7 linked regions of the Homo sapiens genome follow. The protein of the gene in region 5 interacts with the protein of the main gene of each other region in a biochemical or structural test. Each region holds a gene or a part of one and is shown on either strand. Other genes may lie near its edges.

The links.
Region 1: the proteins of SLCO2B1 (region 5) and LNX1 interact in a test that uses a peptide from one of them, tested with the Homo sapiens proteins (one large-scale study listed by IntAct).
Region 2: the proteins of SLCO2B1 (region 5) and HTRA3 interact in a test that uses a peptide from one of them, tested with the Homo sapiens proteins (one large-scale study listed by IntAct).
Region 3: the proteins of SLCO2B1 (region 5) and CASK interact in a test that uses a peptide from one of them, tested with the Homo sapiens proteins (one large-scale study listed by IntAct).
Region 4: the proteins of SLCO2B1 (region 5) and SHANK1 interact in a test that uses a peptide from one of them, tested with the Homo sapiens proteins (one large-scale study listed by IntAct).
Region 6: the proteins of SLCO2B1 (region 5) and GOPC interact in a test that uses a peptide from one of them, tested with the Homo sapiens proteins (one large-scale study listed by IntAct).
Region 7: the proteins of SLCO2B1 (region 5) and PARD3B interact in a test that uses a peptide from one of them, tested with the Homo sapiens proteins (one large-scale study listed by IntAct).

The regions. Positions count from the first base shown.
Region 1 is NC_000004.12:53,507,987-53,511,486, reverse strand, and holds part of LNX1 (E3 ubiquitin-protein ligase LNX), read left to right. Parts: intron 1-3,259; coding exon 3,260-3,500.
Region 2 is NC_000004.12:8,283,254-8,286,753, forward strand, and holds part of HTRA3 (serine protease HTRA3 isoform 1 precursor), read left to right. Parts: intron 1-3,307; coding exon 3,308-3,500. UniProt on the Homo sapiens protein: Serine protease that cleaves beta-casein/CSN2 as well as several extracellular matrix (ECM) proteoglycans such as decorin/DCN, biglycan/BGN and fibronectin/FN1.
Region 3 is NC_000023.11:41,553,055-41,556,554, reverse strand, and holds part of CASK (peripheral plasma membrane protein CASK), read left to right. Parts: intron 1-919; coding exon 920-955; intron 956-2,639; coding exon 2,640-2,836; intron 2,837-3,500. UniProt on the Homo sapiens protein: Multidomain scaffolding Mg(2+)-independent protein kinase that catalyzes the phosphotransfer from ATP to proteins such as NRXN1, and plays a role in synaptic transmembrane protein anchoring and ion channel trafficking.
Region 4 is NC_000019.10:50,717,003-50,720,983, reverse strand, and holds the start of SHANK1 (SH3 and multiple ankyrin repeat domains protein 1), read left to right. Parts: upstream 1-1,181; 5' UTR 1,182-1,578; intron 1,579-3,981. UniProt on the Homo sapiens protein: Seems to be an adapter protein in the postsynaptic density (PSD) of excitatory synapses that interconnects receptors of the postsynaptic membrane including NMDA-type and metabotropic glutamate receptors via complexes with GKAP/PSD-95 and Homer, respectively, and the actin-based cytoskeleton.
Region 5 is NC_000011.10:75,157,607-75,161,106, forward strand, and holds part of SLCO2B1 (solute carrier organic anion transporter family member 2B1), read left to right. Parts: intron 1-2,225; exon of another isoform or gene 2,226-2,323; intron 2,324-3,500. UniProt on the Homo sapiens protein: Mediates the Na(+)-independent transport of steroid sulfate conjugates and other specific organic anions.
Region 6 is NC_000006.12:117,575,012-117,578,511, forward strand, and holds part of GOPC (Golgi-associated PDZ and coiled-coil motif-containing protein), read right to left. Parts: intron 2,461-3,500; coding exon 2,437-2,460; intron 342-2,436; coding exon 166-341; intron 1-165.
Region 7 is NC_000002.12:205,300,975-205,304,474, forward strand, and holds part of PARD3B (partitioning defective 3 homolog B), read left to right. Parts: intron 1-489; coding exon 490-727; intron 728-3,500. UniProt on the Homo sapiens protein: Putative adapter protein involved in asymmetrical cell division and cell polarization processes. May play a role in the formation of epithelial tight junctions.

The sequences.
Region 1 (3,500 bases), on a different chromosome or scaffold from region 5:
TTCATCCTTCAAGTTCATGGCCATCACCCATCACCATCTGAGAGTACTTAGTGCTCAGAGTAACTGAAAGGAAGCATAAATCCTCCTTGCTTTGAACACAACCCAGGGTTTACCGTATGTTCTTGTCCTGGCCAATGCTAATCAGCTCTTCCCCGCTTCTTCCATCTTTAATGCTTGTAAATCAAGCTGCCCCAGTATTAGTCACCACAAAAGAGATAATTAGTAAGTACAAGCTGCTACCTTCATAGATCACTCTGTCTCTGGCTCAAGCTAAGCCAAGAGACTGGAGAAAGCTAACATTACACAGTATGAGTTGCATTAGCAGAACCTTTATTACACAAAGCACGTGAGTCTGAATACTTAAATCAAGAATCTGCACCCTCCCCAGCTGTTGTAAGAACAGCTGTGATATGAGACCAAAGGAAAGGCTACTTACCTACCTTATGAGGTTTTCCTTTCCTGGACTCAAAAACTTATCTTTAGAACCCCAAGAATTTGAAAGTGCAATGGTTTCTTAATGGCATAATCTTGGGATTCAGATATTTTTAAAATACTGTAACCCCCATTGATGGGGCAGCAGAGAAAGGTGCCAGTTTCTTTTACTAGGACATGCTGTGTCCTCCCAACAAAGCCATGGCTTGTACCTTTGCCAGCCATTTGTCCAGCTGGAAAATAACGTTACTATTCTGGCAGGGCACATGGTCAAGAGCATTGCTGCCTCCTCAGAAAAGACCATTTCCAGACCAGCTAGGAACTTCCTTTCCATGCACTGCTAATCAGATACTACCAGCCTGCCTGGAAGTGTTTCATTCAAGTATTTGTTACGTTGGAGCCGCTCAAATGCAAGTTGGCTTTTATTTTTTCCATCACACAGTGTTTCACCAATTTTTGAGTTTCCCAGATCAACCTCTTCACTATGTTTAAACAGAATGATTCCAAGCCAACGCAGCTAATCGGTACAGTAAAACCTCACGAATTCAAGCCAGGAATTTGAACTCTTCCAGCTGAGGACAAGCACTAGCAGTGTAAGTTGGAGGCCTGTTTTCTCATCTAGAAGATGAGGACATAAGGTTGTATAACCAAACTCCTTTTCTACTAATATTAAAACCACATTTCATCTAATCTAAGATGCCACTGACTATGAGAGGTATGTTCATATAACAGCAAAGAAGATGACATTTTAAAATGTGCCATCAGTTAAATAATCCCCAAACACCAAAGATATCCCCATGATGCATAGATTGGTGAACTAGACTCTTGTGGCTTTGAAATCCATTCAGATGAATTTGGCAGCTTCTCCTGCCCTTGGTTGTGTTGCTTGGCATGAAATAGGCAATCCTTTTTGAATGTTCTCAATAACAAAATGTAACACCACTTTTAATTCCCTTGGGTGCATCTTTCTAAGCAGATAAAACATTTGCTTGTCCCTTTGCAAGAAAACACAGAATTGTGATTCTGCTTCTAACAATGAATATGTACTTCATCAATATCCAATTGTTCTGTTTTTGAGGCTTTCTATAACTTTTCATTTTAGTACTGAATCATTACATTCAAATGGCAATTAAACTCAATGGTGTAATACCAAGTATGTAGGCAACTCAATGGAAGTGATAAGGGGTACTCGTGCGACTGGGTTTGCAGTGCTGGGATGGTGACGTCTGCATCATGACTGCCACCTGGCAACAGAAACTTCACAACCCCATCAATCACACATGCATCCTGATTTTAGACATGTTAAAGCATGAAAAGAGCATCTTAGGATGTACAAAATATGGAAATAGCGACAATCTCATGAGAACTGCTTGTAGTCATGTAGATACCATGACGACTTTAATGAATTTGCATTCTAGTACTTTTGGCAAAAAGTACTAAACCCCTGATAAGACTTAATGTCGATCAAACCTCACAGCAATCCAGAAAGTATATGCAAATTTGGAAGTTTAGCCAGGTAAATAAAATTTCCCTAGATCACCCAGCTATGTAAATTTCAGAGCAAGGATTTAGATCTAGACAATAGGACCTTCCATCTTGCCATTTCTATGATTCTATGGGCAGTAAAAATCATGTGTGCATATCACGGTAGACTGACCTTTGATTTCATCTACTTTCAAAAACATGAAGCATCCCTGAAGTAGGATCTCAAAGGGCTATTTAAAATAGCTCAATCATATAGGGTTTTGAGTAATGAATTGATAAGAATTTATAATTAACACATCCATTATATGCAAATGGACACTTCCTAAAGGGGCTCGTGATATGATTTCTGCCTTCACAACTGTGGAAACTGGAGTGGTTACCTGTAGCTACCCTCCCCACAGTAGAGTGAGATAGTTAAATCACCATTTCCTGACCAAAACCTAGCCTGTGCGCTGCAATGACTTGCCGAGTGGCAGTGTTCATGTTCATGGCAAAATATGGACCTAGATCAGCTCCAACCTTGGTCTTCTGAGCCTCGAGAATGTTCTTTTTCAACTTCTTTCTATTGCACCAATAACTTGCTTTTCTCACAAAGTTTGGTTTTTGTGGAGTTTTCTGGATTTTTTTTTATAGCATGGATAGTGAATGGGTAGAGACAAATATGTTTTTGCTAAAAACCACAAAAGCTGTTTTACTCTCTTAATGGTAGACAACATGGCAATGAATGACACTTCTCAGATCATGGGAGCCCCCAACACCAGGGAGGCCCTCCCAGACCAGCCCAGAGAAAGAGAATGGAAGCCACCAAGCTGCCACTAGAGGATAGCAATGCTGAACTCACTCCTGTGGCTTTGTGGTGAGGGTGATTCTGTTTGCATGAACAGTTAAATATGGAATCTGGGAGGAGCTTTATATTTACGTTCAGTGCTCTGGGAACAAAATCCAAAAGAAGAGTGAGGGTGTGACTAAGGGCTTTCATGGTCAAAATAAACACCAGCAAGCAGGAATTACCAAATAGTTGAACATTGCCAGCCTCAAACCCTACTCATGTAGACACCATGGTGACCTGAATAAATTTGCATTCCAGCAGCCAATGTAGAGATTGCTTTAAGAGAATGCAGTGGGCGTCTTTAAAAAATCTCAAATTATGAATTCACTTGGTTGGCAAATGTATATTGAGTACCGATGTGTGAAAAGGGAAGAGAGGATATAGCGGCAGGCAAATCAAATTCCAAGTTCAACAAGCCTATTATACATTCTTCAATTGTATTTGAAGAGGGCTGACTGAGGAATGGCAGCAGAGCCAAAGCTCTTCTTCACCTCCCCGCTGGTTCTGTTACAGCTGTAAAGGTGCCTCCCACTACGGCCTGACCAAAGATAGGAAGAGGCGCTCACAAGATGGCTGTCCAGACGGCTGTGCGAGCCTCACAGCCACGGCTCCCTCCCCAGAGGTTTCTGCAGCTGCCACCATCTCCTTAATGACAGACGAGCCTGGCCTAGACAACCCTGCCTACGTGTCCTCGGCAGAGGACGGGCAGCCAGCAATCAGCCCAGTGGACTCTGGCCGGAGCAACCGAACTAGG
Region 2 (3,500 bases), on a different chromosome or scaffold from region 5:
ATGTCCCAGCCCCGTAGAGGAAGTGGTGTGTACCGTGTGGCTTCACCCCCGAGCAAGGCCTCTCCTTGCAGATGCACAGGCAAAGCCTCCTCCCCTTCTTCCCACAGGGCCTGCCCCGGTCCCTGCCACCATCCCCAGCCTCTCCTACTTCCCCCATCACAGAGACCCTCTGAGCTGGTTTGGGGGAGCCCTGCCTTCAGAACCTCCCGCTGTGCAAGCTGCCCAATGTCTGATCGCTCACACCGAATCCTGAGGGCTCATCCCAGATTGACTTATATCCCGCAGAAGCAGACTGAATGACTCTTCTGAAGTTTAGAGTGTTTCTCCCATCCACCTTTGCTGGCCCTTTGGTCCCTGGGTGTGCACAGAGCCGGCAAACAGCCTGATGAGGAGGCCCCGGAACCAAGCCTCATTCCACCCTGATAGGGATCAGACGGCGGGTCCAGGCGGACACGGAGCCGGCAATGAGCAGTCACCAGAGGCCGCAGGCCAGGGCTCCAGGGACTTGCTTGTTTTCACGGTACTTTCCCTGAGGCCTCCAGCCTCCCTGTGACGAGGCTCCACTGCCCTAGGCCCGGCCCTGGGGACTGAGCATCTGGTGGCTCATGGGGAGATCCCAGGAGTGATTCCTGCTCCAGCACCGCCTCCCTGCTGGCTGGCTCGGCGCTTGTCTGGTCCAAGCCCCTGTCACTAGGCGTCACGGCCCCTCTGCCCTCCCCATCCCGGGCTCTCCAGCAGAGGTCGTGCTCCTTGAACAGGGGTGTGAGAGCGCGTGACGGGCATATAGCACCTCAGCATCACATCCTCCACACCTGCTGGGAGCTCCCTGGGCTGTGGGCTGTGTAGCCCATGTTTCTCAAAACAGCCCTGGAGGCACCACCCATGCAGGACCCACAGCCCTGGTTGCCACCCTGTCCGGTGCCCCGTGCTGATGGACCTCTCACTGCCCCCTTGGCAGCACACTGACCCCTCACTGCCCTTCCCTCGAGCCCCGGGCCCTGAGACATGTCATTGAGGAAATTATAACTGGATGCACTAAGTGGCACGTTGCTGGCCTTCCAGGAGGTAGGGATGGGGGCAGCATCTTTCTGGAAGGCCCCAGCCACCAGGCTCTGAACCAACTAATTACTGACTCCAGCCCGGCTGGGAGGCCGTTTCTGCCCTCAGAGCCTCCAGTGACTGATGCTCTGAGTGGGTGGGTGAGACCCAGCAAAGATGAGACAGATGCTTTTCCAGCACAGGCCTCCCGGCTGTGACCCCTGACCTGAGGTCTGAGTGTGGGCATGGAGGCCAGTGGGCAGCCGCGGGCATTTTCTGCAGACCCCGCAGGTGCCTGGCCCTGTGAGGCACCCTGGGGCTTCCGCAGGCAAAACAGGTGCAGTTCCTACTCTGGGGCACACACGGAGTGGGTGTGGCAGAAGCTGGCTGCGGATGTGAGTGGACAGATGCTGGGGTCACCGTGTGGGGTGGCCAAGTGGCCAGATGCCCAGGCTGCCTGGGGCAGACCCCTGCTTTGCCCTTTGCCTGCCCGCCTGACCTAGGCAAGTAGTTCAGCGTCTCGGGACTCAGTTTTCCCACCATAAAGACCTGAGAGTTAGGGACGACAGTAGTTTCTTGTGGCTGCCATAACAAAGTACCACAGACTGCATGGCTTAAAATGACAGAGATGTTTGCTCCCATGGTTCTGGAGGCTGGAAGTCCTAATCAAGGTGTCAAGGTCCTAATCAAGCAGGGCTGCTTTCTTCTGGGGGATGTTGGGGGAGTGTCCCAGGCCCCTCTACTGGCTCTAGTGTTTTCCGCAGTCCTTGGTACGCCTCGGCCCTTAGACCCCTCTCTCTGCTCTGTCTCCATCATCTCATGGCCTTCCCCTCTGTGAGACTGGACTTCCCTCCCTTAAAGACAACACAGACACACTCTGATGTCACCGTAACTTCAGGACACCTGCAAAGACCCTGTTTCCAAATAAAGTCACATTCACAGTCACATGGGGTTAGGACTTGGCCGTATCTCTTGGCAGGGATACAGCTCACCACAGCACCCCCCTTGCAGGGTGCCCATGAGCATTCAATGGCCTGCCTGCCTCAGAGGGAGCACAGGGTGGCATTCGCTGCCATCTCTGGTCCTGTGGGTCACAGCGAAGCTCCTGTACTTTGCAGAGACTGTCACCTCCCTGCACGTGCCAGACGCTCCCATCCCTCCATGCTTTGTCTCTTGCTCTCACCTGCCTGCACGTGCCAGACGTTTCCATCCCTCCATACTTTGTCCCTCGCACATTTTCCTTGCTCATCTCTACTAAGCAGCCTCAGGGAGTGAGTACCTGCTCTGGGCTGGGCCCCACGCTGGGGTCCCGAAGGTTCCCACCCTGGAGAAGGTCCCAGGCTGTGTCTGGCATTCAGCCTCCTCCCCTGCTGGATGTGGGGCTGTGGTTTCTACTCAGAGAGCTCTGGTGAGAACTGGGGATTGTTGCCCATCGGCAGACACCAATGCAAACCCAGGCCAGCTCCACACCGTTCACAGAGGGCAGGGCCCAGGCTGGCCTCATCTGTGCCTCTGCACCCCTGCCCTCGGGGTGTCCAGGGCTCGGGTCCTGCATCTGCCTGCTGCCAGCACTGCCACATTTGGGGCTTTAGGCAGCTAGCCTGGGGGTGAGGGTAGAGGGAGGTGGGAATAAGCCTTCTCAGCCCTCCCAGCACTCACCCTGTCGGGATGATCAGGAATCTGCCCCAGCCTCTGGGGAGCCTCCCTTCCTGGGTACCTGCTGCAGCCCTGCAGGATGCTGTGTGTGCAATGGGGCTTTTCCCCTAGGGCCAATTATTGTCCTGTTTGTTGAGAGGCGTTTTAGAGCCCAGGCATCACCACTCGGCGGAGGAGGTGTTGTTGTCCCATTTCCCAAATGGGGAGACCAAGGCTCAGAGAGCTTCACTGACCTGCCCACGGTCAGGCAGATAATAAGTGGGTCCTGGACTTGGGATTAGCATCCTGGTCTGTCTGGCTCCGTGCTCCGTAGTCAGGATGGCGAGTGCAAGCTGGGAGTCATCTGACATGTCGCAGGCAGCCTGTCTCATCTCAGCAAATTGCAGCGAGAGGTGATCATCATCACCTCTTTATGGCTGTGAATGGGTGCAGGCGCCGGTGACTTGGCCAGGTCACAGGGCCAGGATTCAAATGGGAGCTTGAGGGACTCCAGACCTGTGTTCTGTCAGCCACACACTGGCTCTGCTCCTCGCTGACCAGCCCCACCACTGCGCCTGACTCCCCCGCGTCCTAGCCCCACCCTAAATGCCCGCCTGTGTCTCCCTGGCTGCAGACACCCGCTGTTTGGCCGCAACGTGCCCCTGTCCAGCGGTTCTGGCTTCATCATGTCAGAGGCCGGCCTGATCATCACCAATGCCCACGTGGTGTCCAGCAACAGTGCTGCCCCGGGCAGGCAGCAGCTCAAGGTGCAGCTACAGAATGGGGACTCCTATGAGGCCACCATCAAAGACATCGACAAGAAGTCG
Region 3 (3,500 bases), on a different chromosome or scaffold from region 5:
TGTGGTACGTGCACATATTTTTGTGAATTATAAGCCTTGCCTGGATATGAAAAGCAAAAAGAACTGGCTTCAAACTGCACTTAAGCCACGCTGTTATCACATCTTTAACACAAAGTACTTTATATTTGACTTGAACTTGGAGTTTTAAATTTTTTCAGAACTATCCATTTTGGAATATAGAAAGAATTGTTTTTAACTTATTTAAACAAATGGAAGCACTTAACAGGTGCAGACTGGCAATATTTTGGTTGCTAATACTGCTGTTTATGACCCAGTTAAAATTATTGAGAGTTCTAATAATGCAGCAGTATTCTTCTTTCCTGACTTTTAATTTGCCCTTTGAGAATATATCAACTTTTTTATCAGGTAAAATTGTAAATAATTTAGAAATTATCTCAAATGGAATGATATTCTAAGTATATCGTAAGAGAAATTATGAAAGAAAATTGTCTATGACTTTATTTTCAACTTTAAAATAGGCTACCAAAGGAATTCATTCATAACAGTTAACATTTAATACTTTTAAGATGATGAAAAGCCATATAGCCATTGAATTTTTCAAAATCTAAATGGTTGCAGTGACTAAGTTGAAAAGGGCAACAGCTCCTTTTATTTATTTTTTTTTTTTAATAGGCTGTTTCACTTGCAGTGGCTTTTGTGTTGAAGATGCTGAGTTGTTTCTTAAGAACACATTTTCTCTCTGCTTAAACTTACCTGCTTTCTTCAGCTTGCTGCTAAATGGCCTGGGTTTGACTTTTTGATAACTCAACATTTCTGATAAATGGAATAATGTATATTATCTCTTTACAACTTAAATCTAGCTCATTTTTTTAACCATATTGTAACAGAACACACAAATTACTTTGTACTCTTGAAAAATAAATGAAAATTTTTCTCCTGGGTTGGCTTTATTCTACAGGACTTGCCATCAACTACCCAACCAAAAGGACGACAGGTGAATAGATATCCTCTATAGAAACTTCTCTAAACTGAGCAGCTAATAGCCAATCCTTTATTAACCCTTTCCATCCCATAATGTTTGCATTTTGGACCATAACATTTGAGCATTGAGAGCTTGTACCATTTCATTTTAACACATTACACATGACTAATTCTCTATAAAGAATTTTTCCTCACATCTTTGTAGCTGTAATGGTTATTGTAATTTCAACCTGATAATTTTATATTAATGGTTAAGAATTCAGCCTTTGGGGGTGGCTGTGGGCCTGCCTCTGGCATGCAAAAGAATTTTAAAGGTTATAAAATTCTTAGAATTCTAAGACTAACTAAAAAGTTATTCTTAAAATGCTGATGAACATTTTTAAGCAAAAATTTTCTGAAGTTGAAAGCTTTTTCTTAAATTTGTATTTGCATGTGTATTTCTAAAAGCCATTTGCAATGAAAAATAAGAAAAGAATATAAATTATCTTAGCTTCACATCCTGATATACCTGTGTTAGTTCAAACATGAAAAGTTAAGTGCTGCCTAACACTGGCAAGTAACTTTCAAATTGCCAGCACTTTAGAGGTATAGATTTTAAATGCAAATGCAGAGACTTGTAATTTTATAGGCTGGATTGCTGAAAATAAACAGAAAAATCACACAGTGGTTCCAAAGTCTTCAGGTTGGTTTTACAGTGACTTAAACATTAATATTCAATTTTAATTTCAAGAGATAGAATTTTTATGGGATTTTTATCTTGAAATATGGTATTAAAAATAATCAGATTTAGTGTTAAGATATGTATAAATTAGTACCTGATAGAATTCACCCATAATTTTGTCTTAAGACTGTATAATTGATGGAACATTGGGTATGAATTACCTTATCTTAAAGCATTTAAAAAATAAAATAATTCATAAAATGCTGCCATATAATAAACCCTTGAATGCTAATCTATTTCCTAAGTAAACTCACATATCATAAAACTCAGAGCCTTGAACTATGCATGTCTTGAAGCTCTGTGCTGATTTCAAGTGTTACATTGGGGGAAGCTAGGGTTCAAATTCATTTTTATTCTCTCAGAAGAGTAAAATACAAACCTAAAACCTAAATTAGAAAAAAATGAAGCTTTTTTTAACTTTTAAAAAATTGTTTGAGTTACACTTAACTTTATCAGCAATGTGTAGACACACTGCCAGTTGTCATATAAGCATTCTACAGCAAGATACCAACCCAGAGTTCTTGCTAATTTTATATCGTGTGCTGCTTTAGGGTTAAAACCTATCCTGACTGCTAGTATTTATGGCTTAAAGGCTGCCACGCAGTCATGACAACGTATCCATAATGCCAGCATCACCAATGCAGGTTTAAAAAAGAGCGAGCATACTTTTCTATAATTAGAGGCCTATTCTGTTACAGTAAAAGCATAAATTAAGTCTTTATTTTTATTAAACAAGTATTTCAAGTGTTCCTTCCAAATAAAAACAGCAAAGTTTTGAAGCTATACTCATCAAAGATTACTAGTACATTGTTTCTAGCGGTAGAAGTTTTTTGTGTCGTATTTCCATGCATCGTTTTTGCTTTCACCATCTGATGTCCTGTTTGTATTGTAACTGTTGGTGTGTGGTTATGACATTAGAGCTAACTTCTCTTTCACATCACTATGGCATCCTTTCTTACGAACTCCTGTTTTATAGATCTATGTAAGAGCACAATTTGAATATGATCCAGCCAAGGATGACCTCATCCCCTGTAAAGAAGCTGGCATTCGATTCAGAGTTGGTGACATCATCCAGATTATTAGTAAGGATGATCATAATTGGTGGCAGGGTAAACTGGAAAACTCCAAAAATGGAACTGCAGGTCTCATTCCTTCTCCTGAACTTCAGGAATGGTATGTTTTTATGCGTGTTTTGCTTTGCTTGGTTATAAAAACAAAGCCCTGACCATCCATTTTCCAATTTTATATTATTTTAGAGTGTAAAACCTGTTTGATATATTCCTTCCTTTACGAGCCAAACAAAATTTAAATTAGTCATCCAAGAATTCTATATCTTCAGTATCTAGTGAGATCCTAGTTGCAGAGTCAGGGCTTCATTTTACACAAAAAGAAAGGAAGGTCTGGAAAGAGATTGGATGAGCAGCCCTGAGCCAAGTCATGGTCTCACAGCAGAGCCCTCCACTCCTATATGCTGTTATAATTGTTTTAGAATGGCATTAAAAAAATGTACGTTCTCCTTGCCCTTCTACATGCTTTCATGCCCATCCCATTCCCACCACCAGCAAAAAATGTAGGTGCAGTGCTTCAGTGTCACTCAGAGTATTTGAAGATAAAATGTATTTCACTGTTAGAAGGAGGTAGTCAGAAGCTTTGTTCTTTACCTTGCCAGTCCTTTAAAAATACCTTTTCTGCTAGAAAGTTTAAGCCCTAAAAGCAGGCTAAAGTTAGGGGTTTTAGGCACTGTTTTTAACTGAGAGAAAAGGAGTCACAGATCACTGTATATTTTGATAAAATCTATTTCTGCTATTATTGTTACCGTTTCCTTAGTTGAACTGTC
Region 4 (3,981 bases), on a different chromosome or scaffold from region 5:
CAGCTGGCTGCATATGCGTGCCTACACAGACATGTGCAAACTCTGAGGAGACGGTTGGGTGTGTCTGTGTGTGATGAATAAGGATATGCAACTATGAGGGGATATGCCCAGTAGTGCACCATAGTTGTCAAGTGAGGACTTTGGAGCCAGCCTACCTGTTCCTGATCCTTGTTACCACCTCCTTACAGCTGGATGACCTTGGGCAAGTTACTTAGCCTCTCTGTTCCTTGGTTTCCCCCTCTGGAAAATGGGGATGGCGAAAGTCCCTGAGCCTGGCACACAGAAAGTGCTCCAGGAATGTCAGCAGTAACTATCCTGGAGGGGAAGGATGGCACGGTGTTGGGCATGTAAACGGGTGAGTGCGAGCCAGTGCAATGGACAGCACGGTGGGTGGGTGTGATGGGAAGGCGTGCACACGTCTCTACAGTGCTGTAACTCCGTTTTGGTGTTGAGAGATCTGGGCATGCATACCGGGGTGAACGCCTGTGTGCGTGTGTGCGCGCGCACGTGCGTGTGTGGTGGGCAAATGTGTGCATGTGCTGCGTGTGTGCCCGGGCACAGGGGTGTGACAACTGCATGTAGCTGGGTGTGTTTGTAGCTGTGTACCCCAGGTGCATTGTGTCTGGGCATGCATGCGCTGGAGAGTGTGTGTATGTGGGGACTCTGCAGGTGCCGTTACAGCTGGTGACTATGCACCTGTGCCTTGGGGAAATGTGGCCTGGCCCAGGTATGTCCACGTGTGCCCTGACCCAGTGCTTAAATGGAAAGGGTGTGTGTGTGTTTGGGGGGACAGGGTGGGAATCTATAGCCTTCACACTTAAATTTGGGGGTGTAGAGTCTGGCAACAAATATTTATTGTGCCCCACTCTGTGTAGGGCGGCGGGGAGCTCTCTGGGAGGGGGTGGTCCTGAGGTGTGTGTGGGGGGGCACCTTATGGGGGCAGGACCCCTTCCTCGGGGTATGGGAGCAAGCAGGGGCGGAGTCAGGATTTGGGGACTCGGAGGTGGGGAGGAGTGGTGGGGGAGGGCAAGGGTAGGGGGCGGAGCCGGCGGTGGTGGGGGATGGGCGAGGTTTGGGGGCGCGGGGAGGGGCGATGTCTCCTCCGCCGGCTCCCGGAGGGAGGGGAGAGGGCGGAGGGAGGGGAGGGAGGGAGAGAGGGAGGGAGAGAGACAGGGTGAGGGAGAGACAGCGAGAGCGAGAGAGCGAGAAGGGTGGCAGAGGAGGCGCGGAGCGGGCGGCGGCGGCGGCGGCCCGAGGAAGAGGAGGAGGAAGAGCAGGCGGAGACGCGGCGCCCGGAGCCGGCCGGACCGAGCCGGGGGCGGGCGAGGAGGGGCGCGGCGGCCGCGGCGGAAGGGGGGGCGCTCTGCGGATGGCCAGGCCCGGCCCGCGGGGGGGGTGAGGTCCTCGGCCCTCCCGCCCTCCCCCCCGGTCCCCGCCCGCCCCCTCCCCGGGCCCGCTCGCCCTCCGGGGCGGTGGGGCATGGCCTGAGGGTCCCCGTCTCCGGGGGGGTGGGGGGTGGGGGGAGGGGGGAGGGGCCGCGGGCGCCGCCGACCGGGACTCAGCAGCCCCGCCAGGCAGGTAAGGGGGTCGAGAACCTGGGGGTTTGGGGCAGCTGCGGGGCCGGGGCCGCGGGAGGGGGCGAGGGCGCCCCGGATGTCCTTGGCCCGGCGCCGGGCTCCTGGCCTGGGTGTGCGGCTGGGGGTACGGGTGAGGTGGGGAGCGTTGCCCTGGGCGACACCAAATTGGGTTACGCCCGGGTCCCCGGTGCCCCGTCCCAGATCGCATCCTTGATGGGAGGGCGCGCCCCCCACCCCCGGCCAGCAGAGCCCCTATCCCGAACCCGCCTCCCGGCTCTCCGGGGCCAAGGGCTCGGTCCTGGTACCCGCCTCCCCGCCCAGCCCGGCCACTCCCCCGCCTCGCCCTCCCTGGCGTACCTGGGCCCCTCCGCCAGGTCACCCTGGTCCCCACTCCCCTCCAGCGAGGGTCTAGGCCCGGGCCTCCTCCGCCCCTTTCGACCCCTCCAGCTCCCGCTTCTCCTTCCAGGCTCCTCCAGTCCCTTTCCACCCCTGTCCAAGCTCCCTGCGTCCCCACCAGGTCTCCAGTCCCTACACCGCCGGCCGGCGCGCCCCCTCGGCTCCCGCCCCCGACTCCTGCTCCCCGGTGCCCCCCGCCCCTCTCCCCGGCCGGGTTCTCCCCCACCAGTTTCCCAGCCTCGGCTCCGGCTCTCTCTCCCCGCCCCTCCCCGCCTCCCTCCGCCTCCATTCATTCTCCCCGGCCCCGCTCTCGGCCACGCCAGCCGCCCCCTGTCCCCCCACAGCCTCCCAGGGCACCCCCTCTCTCGCGTCCTCCACCACCCCCCTCGCCGATTCCTCAGCCCGTCTCGGTACCAGCTGCGTGCCAGCTATTCTTAGCCGCGGAGCGTTTGATTCATGCCGCCCCGGCGGAGCGTGCCCGCTCCCTCCCGCGAGCCCTGAGGGGGAGGGGCCGGAGCCGGCCCGGGGGGGCTGGGGCAGCCGTACGCGCGGGGGGCCCTAGCCAGCTTTTCTTTCATCCCACCGGCCACCCCCTCCGAGCGGGGTTGAGGCTGGGGGTCAGCCAGGGTCAGCCGAGGGGGAGTGTCTGCGGGCCCCAGATCGCGAGGTGGGCTGTGCGGCGGGGCAGGGAGGAGGCAGCCGGGGTCTCCGCAGGGACGAGGTGGGGCGGCGTGGCTGGGTACCTGGAGGGGGAGGGGGCTTCGCAGCGCTGCCGCGCGTGGGGGAGGGGTCCGCCGGCCCTGGGTTAGAGGCTCGCTCGCCCACACCTCCTGGAACTCTCCTCCCACCACACACATTTAGTCTTCCCTTTCCCAACCCCCCAGCCCATCCCCACTCCCCCAAAGTCAGCAGTACCCTCCACTGCTTCCCATCTCCATGGCAACGGTGCAGGAACCGGGCCTGGTGTTGGGGGGAGGGACCAGACCAGACATTCTGGTTTCCGGTGCTGGGGTGGGAGTTGGGGGAGAACAGAAGGGAGGCGGACCCCATTTGGAAGGGGCTCCACCCTCATAAGGCCACCTCAAGGGAGAACAGCAAGGATCTAGAGATGATCCCCCACTCAGTTCCCCAGACCCTCCTCTCACTTCTTAGCCTCCCTCCTAACACCCCCAGTCCTCAGAGTGGAGCCCCTAGTACCCAGCAAGCCAGCCCACCCACCCTGCAGTCCTAGAAAAGAGCTACAGGTCATCTGCAGCCACCCACATCTACCCGGGCCACCACACCACTGTCACCTGGACAGCACTCCCCAGGCCGACCTCCCCACCTACCCGCACACCCTCTCAAGATGCCCCAGTCTCCAAAAGCCACCTCTTGTGGTTCCCTTGGGGACACCCTAGGCCAAATGCTCTGCCCATGACACCCCCATCTCAGTGCCCCTTGCTCCCCTGGGACGGCAGATTCCCCAGCACTATTCGGCATGCCACGCGTTGTCAGCCACACTTGAGTGAAGTCACCAGCTCCACCCGCTCCAGGCTCACCACACCTCCCTCTCCCCCTTACTACATCTCAGTGTCAGCCTCAGCTTCTCCCCAACCCCACCCCCCGGCCCTGGGATGAGGGGCCAGGCTGGGGCCAGGAGGGCAGGATGCCTGTCAGTTTGTCCACCTGTCTGTCCTTAGCTAATTTTAGCTGCATTTTCTGTGGCCTGGCAAAGTGGGCCAGTAGCTCCCGCGGTGATTCTGCGGTTTCTGGGACACGGCCACGCTGGGTCACCAGCAAAGTGGGGCGCAGGGGGCGGGCTGCAAGCGGGGCCAAGGGCAGGGAAGGAGACACATGCCAGAAGCATGTCAGGGACAGGGGTGTGTGCGTGCCAGCGTGGGAGGAGGCGGCAGGGGAGGCCGTGCAGGCCGAGGGTGTGTCCAGCCTCCTTCCTGCCTATCTTGGGCAGTGGGGGTAGGCTGCCCTTGACCGCTTGACCACCGAATAGCGCCTGCGGCCTCTGAGGGGT
Region 5 (3,500 bases):
GCTTGAATATTTATCAGGAAAAGAGAGCAAGGGCCACCTATATGCCAGGCCAGCTGCCCCAAAGGCCTTACCTCTTTGAGGTCGTATAGAGGAGAAGAGATTTCTTGTCCTCACTCTTTGCTAGGCTGGTGGCTGAGGTCCCTATAACAAAAGACAGCTTAACAGGAGAAAAGCATACAAATTTATTTGGCTTTTAAAAATTTAATTTACTTATTATTATTTTTACATAGAGATGGGGTATCACCATGTCACCCAGGCTACTCTGGAACTACTGGGCTTGGTAATTCTCCCACCTCGGCCTCCCAAAGTGTTGGAATTACAGGCGTGAGCCACTGCGCCTGGCCCAAATTTATTTAATATAAGTTTTACATGACACAGGGGCCTTCAGAAATGAAGACCCAAAGAAATGGGAAAACGTGTGTATTCTTAAACTTTTTAGTTTTTATTATATTGAATTAAATTAAATTATTTATTTATTTATTTTTTGAGACAGGGTCTCACGCTGTCGCCCAGGCTGGAGTGCAGTGGCATGATCTCGGCTCACTGCAACCTCTGACTCCCAGGCTCAAGTGATCCTCTTGCCTCGGCCTCCCGAGTAGCTGGGATTACAGGCATGCACCACCACACCTGGCTAATTTTTTGCATTTGTAGTACAGATGAGGTTTCACCATGTTGCCCAGGCTGGTTTATTATTTTTTAATCATCTAGCCTAAAATGTCAAAAACTTGTGACTTTTTATGCCAAGTTTGATGAAGAAGTATATAGTTGTGGAAGTATTGCACAAAGAGTGTGTGAGCTAATGGTGATACACTTAGGGGAACCTAGCAAGGCCTGTTTGTTCAGATTCTTCTCTGTGTCCTTGCATCTTCAAAGTTAAGGCTGTTTTTTTTTTCTCCAGGTACAAAGACAGCAACTCTCAAATGAGAATCTTATGACCTATTTCAGGGTGAAAGGTGGGAGAAGGTCAGAGTGGGGTGACTATCCTAGGTTTTATGACCTGCTTCTACTGTTTTCTCAAATGTGGCCAAGGTGCCATATTTGGAGAATAGTGTGTCCTGAATTCCATCAGTAAATACTGTTATATTCACCTTACAAATGGGGAAACTGAGGCTCAGAAAGCTCAGGGATGTGCCCAGGCTCACACAGTGGGCTTGTAGCACATCTGGGATTCCAACCCAGGTCTGAGGCCTTAAAGCCTATTCTCAGCCTCACATTTCCCTGAGATCTGTCCTTTGCTGCTGGGAGGCAGCCAAAGGAGGCAGAATCCTGGGCCTTTCCCACAGAGAACAGGTAAAGGAAGGCGGTCCTTGCAGTCAGGCTGGTCTCTGAAACCTTGCTCCTCATCACCCAGACTCAGGTGGTGTGGAGAAGGCTGACTCTACCCATGAAGGGCAGCCCCTTGAAGGGTGAGTCTCTGACTGACCAGATACCTGGGAAACGAAGTTTGTGGCTGACAGACTTTCAGGAACTTGTCTGACTGTCTTATGAGGAGCTGCAGGCAGGTGGCTGACTGACGGCCTGAACGGACAGCTCTCCTGAAAGACAGTAGCCCGCCGGCTGGCTGGCTTACCAGCAGGTGGACACGATGTGCCTGCATGAGTGATCAGCCAAGTGACCGACTGACAGTCAGACACACAGACCCATTGCGGGCCAGCTCGGGCTGTGGGTCCCTAGCCCCTGGAGCCACCTGGCCTACCTGGGACCCCAAAACTTAGCTGCCCACCTGGGAGAGAGAGGGACTGGGTTTTTTAAACTAGGGCCTGGCTCTCTGCCCCAGGTCCCTTCATTCCCGCAGGCAACCGCCTGCCCAGCCCAGGTTCAGTCCCATGGCCGTCCCATCCTCCTGTCAGGGGTGGCCCCTGACAAAGGCCCCACAGCACAGGGCAGGGTCTCAGTGCCCTTCCACAGGAGGACACGCAGTCCTGGACTGGACCATCCTTCCAAGGGGAGTTCCGCCCTGAGTCAGGGAGGCGAAGGTTTGCTGTCAGCGCGTCAGCAGAGACCCCAGCCCACAGGAAAGGCTCGGAGGGGGTGGGCAGCCTGCCTGACAAGCCCCATTCAGTGACCAGCTGACCCCCAATACATGACTCGTGCTCCTCTCAGAACCCGGAGGAATGTGGCCAGTGCTTCCCTCCCCTGCCCAGAGGCACAGGCTGTGGACTTTGCCCTCCACAAACAGCCATATCTCTAAAGGATAAAGTACTCCCAGGAAGGCTTTGAGCCTTGGCAGAAAAGGCTGGGATTGAAGCTTCAGGGAGAGCCAGAGGTGAGGCTGGAGTGGGAGATCACCTGAGGCAGGTGAGCAGGCTCCATGAGTGGGCAGGTGAGAGGCCAGGGGGCTGGAACTGGGGCTAGACAGGCTGGGGCACAGCAAGGATGCCACCAGTATACCCAGGAAGCTAAGTGGAGGGTCCAGGGTCTGGCCTGGAGGCGGGGGCCTCACATTCTGAGCTGGCCCACAGGCTTCCACCCCTCTCCCCCATCCATTCCTTGGGTTTCCTTCAGAGCTGGGGCTCCAGGTCAAGGACTTCTGCTCCCAGCCTCAGCTCCCGCTCTCTCACCTGGTTGGCTTGGCCCCTTGGTGGACTGGCACTGCTACCTATGAAGTGACTTGGCTAGGTTTGGGTGGGCCAAGACAGAGAAAAGCACTGTGCTTCTTCCCCCTGTCAAACTTGTACAAGGAGCATTGAGTGATGTTGAGTTTAACACTTACCTGGGCTTGAGTCCTGGGACCAATGCTAACCAGCAAAGCTAGTTCCTCTGAGCCTGGGTGTCCTTATCAGAAGCATAGAGATAATAAGACACCAAAGGGACGGAGCTGTGGAGAGGGTTCATGGGCCAGTGCACAGAAAGCCTGTGGCATGGAGCCCAGACTACAGCAGGAAACCCACTGCGGCTGGTGAGAGGAGCTGAGGCTCAGAAATGGTCCCCTCCACCTCCTCTGGGAGCCTTTGCTTTGAACTGCCTTATTTCCTCCTTGCCTTTAAAGTGACTCCCACTGAGTGTCCCATGACACTCCTCTTCCCTAGGCCAATTTCCCGTCTCCTCGTCAGGTGTCAGTTTTGTTTCAACAGTTCCTTGCTTCCTCTGAGTGTTTATGCCCCGCAGAGGGACTCCTCCCTAGCCACACGCACTTCCATTTCCTCAGCCAAATTCCTCAACCTGTTTGTATAGACATTTCTCCAAAGCAAGATATACAAATGGCAGTAGGCACATGAAAAGATGCTCAATATCATTAGTCATTAGAAAAATGCAAACCAAAACCACACTGAGATACCACCTCTACCCTATGAGGATGGCTATAATTGAAAAGGCAGACAATGAAAGTATTAGCAAAGATGTAGAGAAATTGGGACATTGCTGGAGGGAGTGTAAAATGGTGTTGCCACTGTGGAAAATGGTTTGGCAGTTCCTCACATGGTTAAACATAGCATTATTGTATATGAACATATGACCCAGCAATTCCGCTCCTAGGTGTACACCCAAGAGAATTGAAAATG
Region 6 (3,500 bases), on a different chromosome or scaffold from region 5:
GAGGTTGCAGTGAGCAGAGATCATGCCACTGCACTCCAGCCTGGGCAACAGAGCAAGACTCCATCTCAAAAAAATAAAAAATAAAAAAAGAAAGAAGTAAGAGTCAACCTCATTAAATATCCAATTTGTCACTTAAGAGTACAATAATACCCATTTTTTACACACCTTCCTGCCAGTTCCTTATCCAAGTACTTGGCAGCTAGTCTCGCCCCATATACTTCAGCCTGGAGAACAGCTATATGTCTACGAAGGGCTTCATTCTCTTTTCTCAACAATTTCACTTCAGCTTCAAGTTGTGCTTCTTTCATTTTTTCTTTTTTGTTTGCCTCAAGCTCTCTTTCCTATGTAATTTTTAAAAGCATATAATTTAATGAAAATAAAAACTCTTTAGCACTAGACCATGTTCCTGAAAATGCACAAAAGCCTACAGTTCAACAATGTATCATCTCTATAAAATGGAACACAAAGATCTGGATGTAGTTCTTTTGAACTAGTACCATAACATCTTGGAACTACTTCTAGATAAAATAATTGCACGCCATGGGTTACCCTGATATGGAGTATAGTAAGAAAAGTAGTCTACTCTAAGCTCATGTTATCACATATTAGTAAAAGTGGCTTCAATGGATAGTTGAATCTGCTATTTACTTCTAAAACCCTTTTGAGAGTTAAATAAGGACCCCAATAGACATTTTAACTGTTATTTATAGATCAAAAAAACCACGTAAACACTGAAAACTTGCATTTATCCTGAGCAGAACTGCTTTTACAGAATCCACAAATCCTATGAAAACATGGTTACATTTGTTCACAATATGTGGAAGACATTATTCCCTATACCCCCTTTGTCCCTTTTGTGAGGACGTAAATAAAAACCTACCTTAGCACCAGAGAAATTGTTTCTCTTGAGGAAATGATGAATAGTATTGTTTCTATTGTATGGGCACTGATTATTTTACATAATTATTTCCCTTTTTATTCTGGATATTGAGAAGCTAAGAAACAAATTTAAGCAAATTTTCAGCAATTCATGGAATATATTTTGGTACTAATTTAATGTGCCTCCTTTGGTCTACTGTTTTGAACAACATCAAAATAGATATATTTGAATACTAGTCAATAAATACGATAATCCTAAAAAAAATATATTTACATATACACACACACATACAAGCTAAAATTAATGACAACTACTAAATGCTAGATATATTTATCACTTCTTTGATTAAAAATATTTGTTATATATATGACAAACAGATGAAAGATTAGCAGACTCAATTTCTGGGAAAAAAAAGATTAGAACGTAATTTCTAGATACTGGTTTTAAAGGATTCGAAAAACTCAATCTAGAATCCTCCTTTTAACATAATTTTGGAATTATTAAACTCTTATTTCAGAACCTATGTCCTAAAAGGGCAAGTATCTGTTTCAAAAGAAACCAGTTTGGAGATACAAACAAAAATCTTTCTTATGACATGTTAAAGTTGATGCAACTTTTGAAAGAGCACTCCTAGACCAAGATTTCTTTGGCTTATGGGCTAAATAAACTTTATGTTGATGATTACCTACTTTCAATTACTTTAATGAGCTATTTATACTACATTAATGAAATGTGGGAGACATACTAAGCTACCACTCACTGGGGTTTTAATGATTCAAATCCCTAATGAATCTGACAAACTCTTGGGCCCGAAATTAACAGAGGTAAGCAAGAATAAGATGAAGGAAACTGAAGTTAACCATTTCTAGATTTCCAGAAAAAAATTTTCTTGGTTCTTAGTTAACCTGTTTGTTACTAGGTAACACCCAAGATGTTCATTTTACATTTAGATACCAAAGATTATATCTTCAAAAGAGGTAAAGCCATAAGACAAATTGGAACTTGATTAGGTTGGGGTAATGAGAAAAATATTAAAAATGTATTGTTATTTTCTAAAATAACTTCTGCTAAAGCATTTCAAAATTCAATTGTTTCAAAGGCCATACGATTATTCTCAAGACTCTTGAAAAGTTGTAACGCAGTAGATGAAGAAGAAACCAACATGCACATTCTTTTCTGGAAATAATTTCAAACAGAAACTTAAGGGGGTTAAAAACTAAGCCTGCTTGATATATCTTCAATACCCTGAAGTGGGAAAACCAATTGCTCTTTGAAGTAGAGGTATGAGCAAGCTACAAGGCTCAAAAATTGTCAAAAATTGACAGGCTCTGCAAATAATGGCTATAAATCACTAACAAAAGAAAAATGTTTAACAACATGCAGTGAGAAAAGAGCAATGGGCCATCCACTGAACTTTTCAGGTACTGGAACATTAAAAAATTGCCATTATTAATGCTATTTTCAAATACAATGAGTGACAACATATAATATGCAAATAAAACACTAAGAACACTTCAGCGTGACATATTAAAGCAAAACAGAAACAATATACTTACCAGCTCCTCCACAGAGGGGCCAGACTTCAGATATAAGAAAAAAGTTTTATAATTAGAAAAAGATCAAACAAATGATTTTATTTAGTGGTATAGTCATTATAAGGAAAAATCCCACATGTTGGATATCATTTGGGTAAAGTTCATTAGAACAAATATATTTGCAATCTATAAACAATAGTAACTGTAATAGCATTAGATTAAAACTTTTTGTTTTATCAAAATTAGTCAACATAACTGGTACAGTGTTCTTTTCATCATACTCTTTCAAATTCTAATGTTAAAACTTCAGGTAAATTCTTTTCTAGAGAAAATTTAGATTGTTTCTGAATGTTAATGTCAAATAGCTCGAAGAAGCAGTTATGAGCTTTTATTTCAGTTAAATAAAACCCTTCTAACACAGATTCACAGAGTTAGAAAACTTAAGAGTTTAACTTAAAATTATTTTCATGAATTTTAACACATCAGTACTAGGAACTAATTAACCAAATGAAATTAACTGAAAACAAATAAAACTTATAAATGTATTACTCTCATTATATCATCAACATCATTTCATGTCCTGCCTCTGCCAAGCAATAGCTGTCTTATTTATTGCTGTGTCCCATATAGGAACAAAATATCTGCTATCTCTTACACACTCAAAACATATGTGGTACACAGTGGCAGGAAAAATGCTTACAATATATTAAGAGCAAAAGAAAAGAATGTGCTACTGGTTGGTACCCAATTCCATTTCTTACTTCTTCCTTATTAACAGACTCCAGTTTTACTGGAAGTGGCCATATGGCCAATAGGAGACTGACATGCAGCTGGGGATGGTCAATGAAATGCTGGCAAAAATTACTGAGAAAGATTTAATAATAAGTTCTTTAAAGAAGGCTAACATCATGGAGAAGCATCTTTTTGCCCTTTCCTTAGATTAATCCTTCTTCCTGCCTGAAATGCAGACATGAAGAAATCCTGAGGATGGAAACCATAAGCTAAAAATGGCAGAGCACAGTGATGGAAGGAATCTGGATCTCTAATATTTGTGGAGCTGCCGTATCAACTCTAGACTGCCGGTC
Region 7 (3,500 bases), on a different chromosome or scaffold from region 5:
TTTTCTACAAGGACCAACTGTCATTTACCCTTAGGGTAGGAGCACTAAGTATGCATTTCTTGACATTCTCATTCGAGTCATTAGAGGCAGCATCAATCCAAGGACTCCGACTGCATTAATTGGGTAGAAGCAGTTGGGATATTTTGTACTCAAAACTCTCTTCTCACCCTGTTTGTTTCCCAGCATGCAGGCTTTCTGAGCTGATCAAGGTTAACAAGGCAGCTTTCAGAGAGATTAGTGCTTGAACACATATCAAGCCTTTCATACTACCAGCTAAGCAACCGGTTGTCCCCACTCCCAGCATCAAGTCTTGCTCGAAGTAACCAGATTTAGGCAGTCAGATCTTCAAAGGGCGCACGTAACCACATAGAAGGGTAGAACTACAGAGTGCTGTTATTCATTCTTTTGCATTTTACATGTTAGCGTTTCTCTGTATACTAACTGAGTGTGCCCCTGACCATGGGTATTGATTATTTTTTCTCTGTACAGACGGTCTGTCTGATAAGAGCTCTCACTCTGGCCAAGGAGCTCTGAATTGTGAGTCTGCCCCTCAGGGGAATTCGGAGCTAGAGGACATGGAAAATAAAGCCAGGAAAGTCAAAAAAACGAAAGAGAAGGAGAAGAAAAAGGAAAAGGGCAAATTGAAAGTCAAGGAGAAAAAGCGCAAAGAGGAGAATGAAGATCCAGAAAGGAAAATAAAGAAGAAGGGCTTCGGCGCCATGCTGAGGTATGGGCCTGCTTTGAAGGCAAAGTTGGTTCTCATTTTGTCTCTCCTGGTAAAATCACTCCTTTGTCTGTACTCAGAAAAAAGCGCACGCTTTTCCTCGTCTTCAGCCAAATGCATACGGCTCTCAATTCTGTGCTCGTTCTCTTTCTGCAGAGGCAGAGGAGCTTTTTGGGGAAAGTTACAGTGATGACAGGACACTGTCTTAAGTTTGTTGTCAAAGAAAGGTCAACACTATGCCAGGCACGGTGGCTCATGCCTGTAATCTCAGTACTTTGGGAGGCTGGGAGGATTGCTTGAGCCCAAGAGTTCAAGACCAGCCTGGGCAAGGTAGGGAGACCCTATTCTTTTTTTCTTTTTTCTTTTCTTTTTTTTTTTTTTTTTTTTTTTGAGACAGTCGCGCTTTGTCGCCCAGGCTGGAGTGCAGTGGCGTGATCTCGGCTCACTGCAACCTCCGCCTCCTGGGTTCAAGCGATTCTTCTGCCTTAGCCTCCCTAGTAGCTGAGACTATAGGCATGCACCACAACGCCCAGCTCATTTTTGTATTTTTAGTAGAGTGGAGTTTCGCCATGTGGGCCAGGAGTCTTGAACTCCTGACCTCAAGTGATCTGCCTTGTCTGCCTTGGCCTCCCAAAGTGCTGGGGTTTCAGGCAGGAGACCCTATTTCTAAGAAAAAAAAAATTAGCCAGGCACAGTGGTGCATACCTGTAATCCCAAGTACTCAGGAGGCTGAGGCCAGAGCATGGCTTGATCCCAGTAGTTCAAGGCTGCAGTGAGCTATGATTACACCATAAAAGAAAGGCCAATACTTAGTAGAGGCATGGACAATGCCTGCAGTCCTTTGTACCAAAGTGTTATGAAAATAAATACTTCCTCTGACACCACAGGGAAAGTGGGAAGTGGGGAAGCCCTATGTGTTACCTCTGGAATACCTCTTTTGAAGCAGGGGAGTCAGGGTAGATGAACCTCATCCCTCTGTGACTCTAGGTGTGCAGTGGCCGGGCCTCTGGGCACATCACTTGTCACCTCCAGAGGCACTGTGGTACAGGGGAGATGTCACTGGGTCTGGGCTCTGATGCCCAAGTCTGGATCCATGACTCCCCACACATGAGCAATGGGGCTTCACACACATTGCTTAGCTTCCCTGAGCCTTACTTTCCTTACTTTTAAAATGAGGCCAGCATACTTGCTCTACTGACCCAGCACAGTTGTGAGATATGATTTCATATGCTATACATTCATTGACTAGACGGGGCTCAACATGGCACAGTCAGAAAACAGCTTTGTTTCTTCTCTCCCCTTCAAGTATAAACTGTTGAGGCTGCCTCTTCCACACCCTGACATCTCAGCTTTCTGGCTGATAGCTTTCTGGTCACTTTTGGGTAAAAAAAAAAGCAACTTGTTTGTCGGGGGCTAAAATATGCAATCCAATATAAATGAAAGCTTTCTTCCTTTCTGCCTGTTGGACCTGAACCACAAGGAGCATCCTATGGTATGGTGGGAGGCAGGATTCCACCTTCTCCTATTTCTCAGTCTTTGGAACCAGGAGACAAAGACAAGATTCAATAGGATAGGATTTTACTTAACTGGCATTATCTGGTATAATCTGGCCATCAAGGAATCTTTGTGGCTACTTTTGTGGATTTTTTAGAGTGCTCCTTACTATACCAGTCACTAATGTAGGTGATTTTCCCACTGACCTATTTCCCTAAGCCTCTGACCTCAGACATATACCCCTGAGTCTCCTTACCCCGGCTGGTAGACTTCTTGGACAGTGCCAGTTTGAGACAGCTCTAGCTTAACTTACAGCCACAGCATCTACCTGGCTTATTAGAGTTCCTGATCTCCCACCCTCCAAATGATGCAAGTACAGCTTGTTCCCACTGTACCGCTCCTCCTCACCCCACCATAGAGATGTTCCAACCAGCCTTGCATCTTCAGACTTCTCCAGCACATCCCACACCAGCTCTGGGCCTCCTCACTCCAGAAGCACACATCAGACTCTCCCAAGAATGCTGTCATGCATGGGGAAGGGAGGAGGCAGTCAATTTTTGCAAGTCACAAAATAAACAGGTAGGAAGTGGGGTGACAATCTCCTATTATACAATTACCTCCAAATTCCCTAAGGGGTTTACTTGTAGCCCCCTCACTTATTTTGTTGGGTGTTACAGGCAGAAGTACCCCTTTCTATTACTGTCTTTACTCCTATAATTTCTTCTCAAATCAATTGATCACTATACTTCTGTGGGCTGAAGGTGAATGATGGGAGATGATGGTTTAGGGGCCAGTTTGGCCACCTCTTATGAAACCCTTAGGAGATACCTCATTTAAGAATGCTGCGTGTATTTATTACCAATTGTTCTCATTTTGTGATCATCAGCTGAAATTTCTACATAGAAAAGAAAGTTCCATCATTCCATATATAAGTGACATTTAGGGAATACAAATAATCCTCTTAGCAGTGAGCCTTCCCGTTACATTTCCAGTGCTCATGAAATGCTAAGCAAGGTTCCTCATGCTCAAAATCTTGGGAGCGATGTTGCCCCTGGATGTGTTATGACAAGACTTGCTGCGGTCCTGCTATCACCTGGGGTGAGGTTACCCCAGCAGGCCTGATGTCATAATAGCTATCTGAATATTAAAAAACAAAATTTTGGCCAGGCATAGTGGCCCAAGCCTGTAATCCCAGCACTTTGGGAGGCCAAGACGGGCGGATCACCTGAGGTCAGGAGTTCGAGACCAGCTTGACTAACATGGAGAAACCCCTTCTCTACTA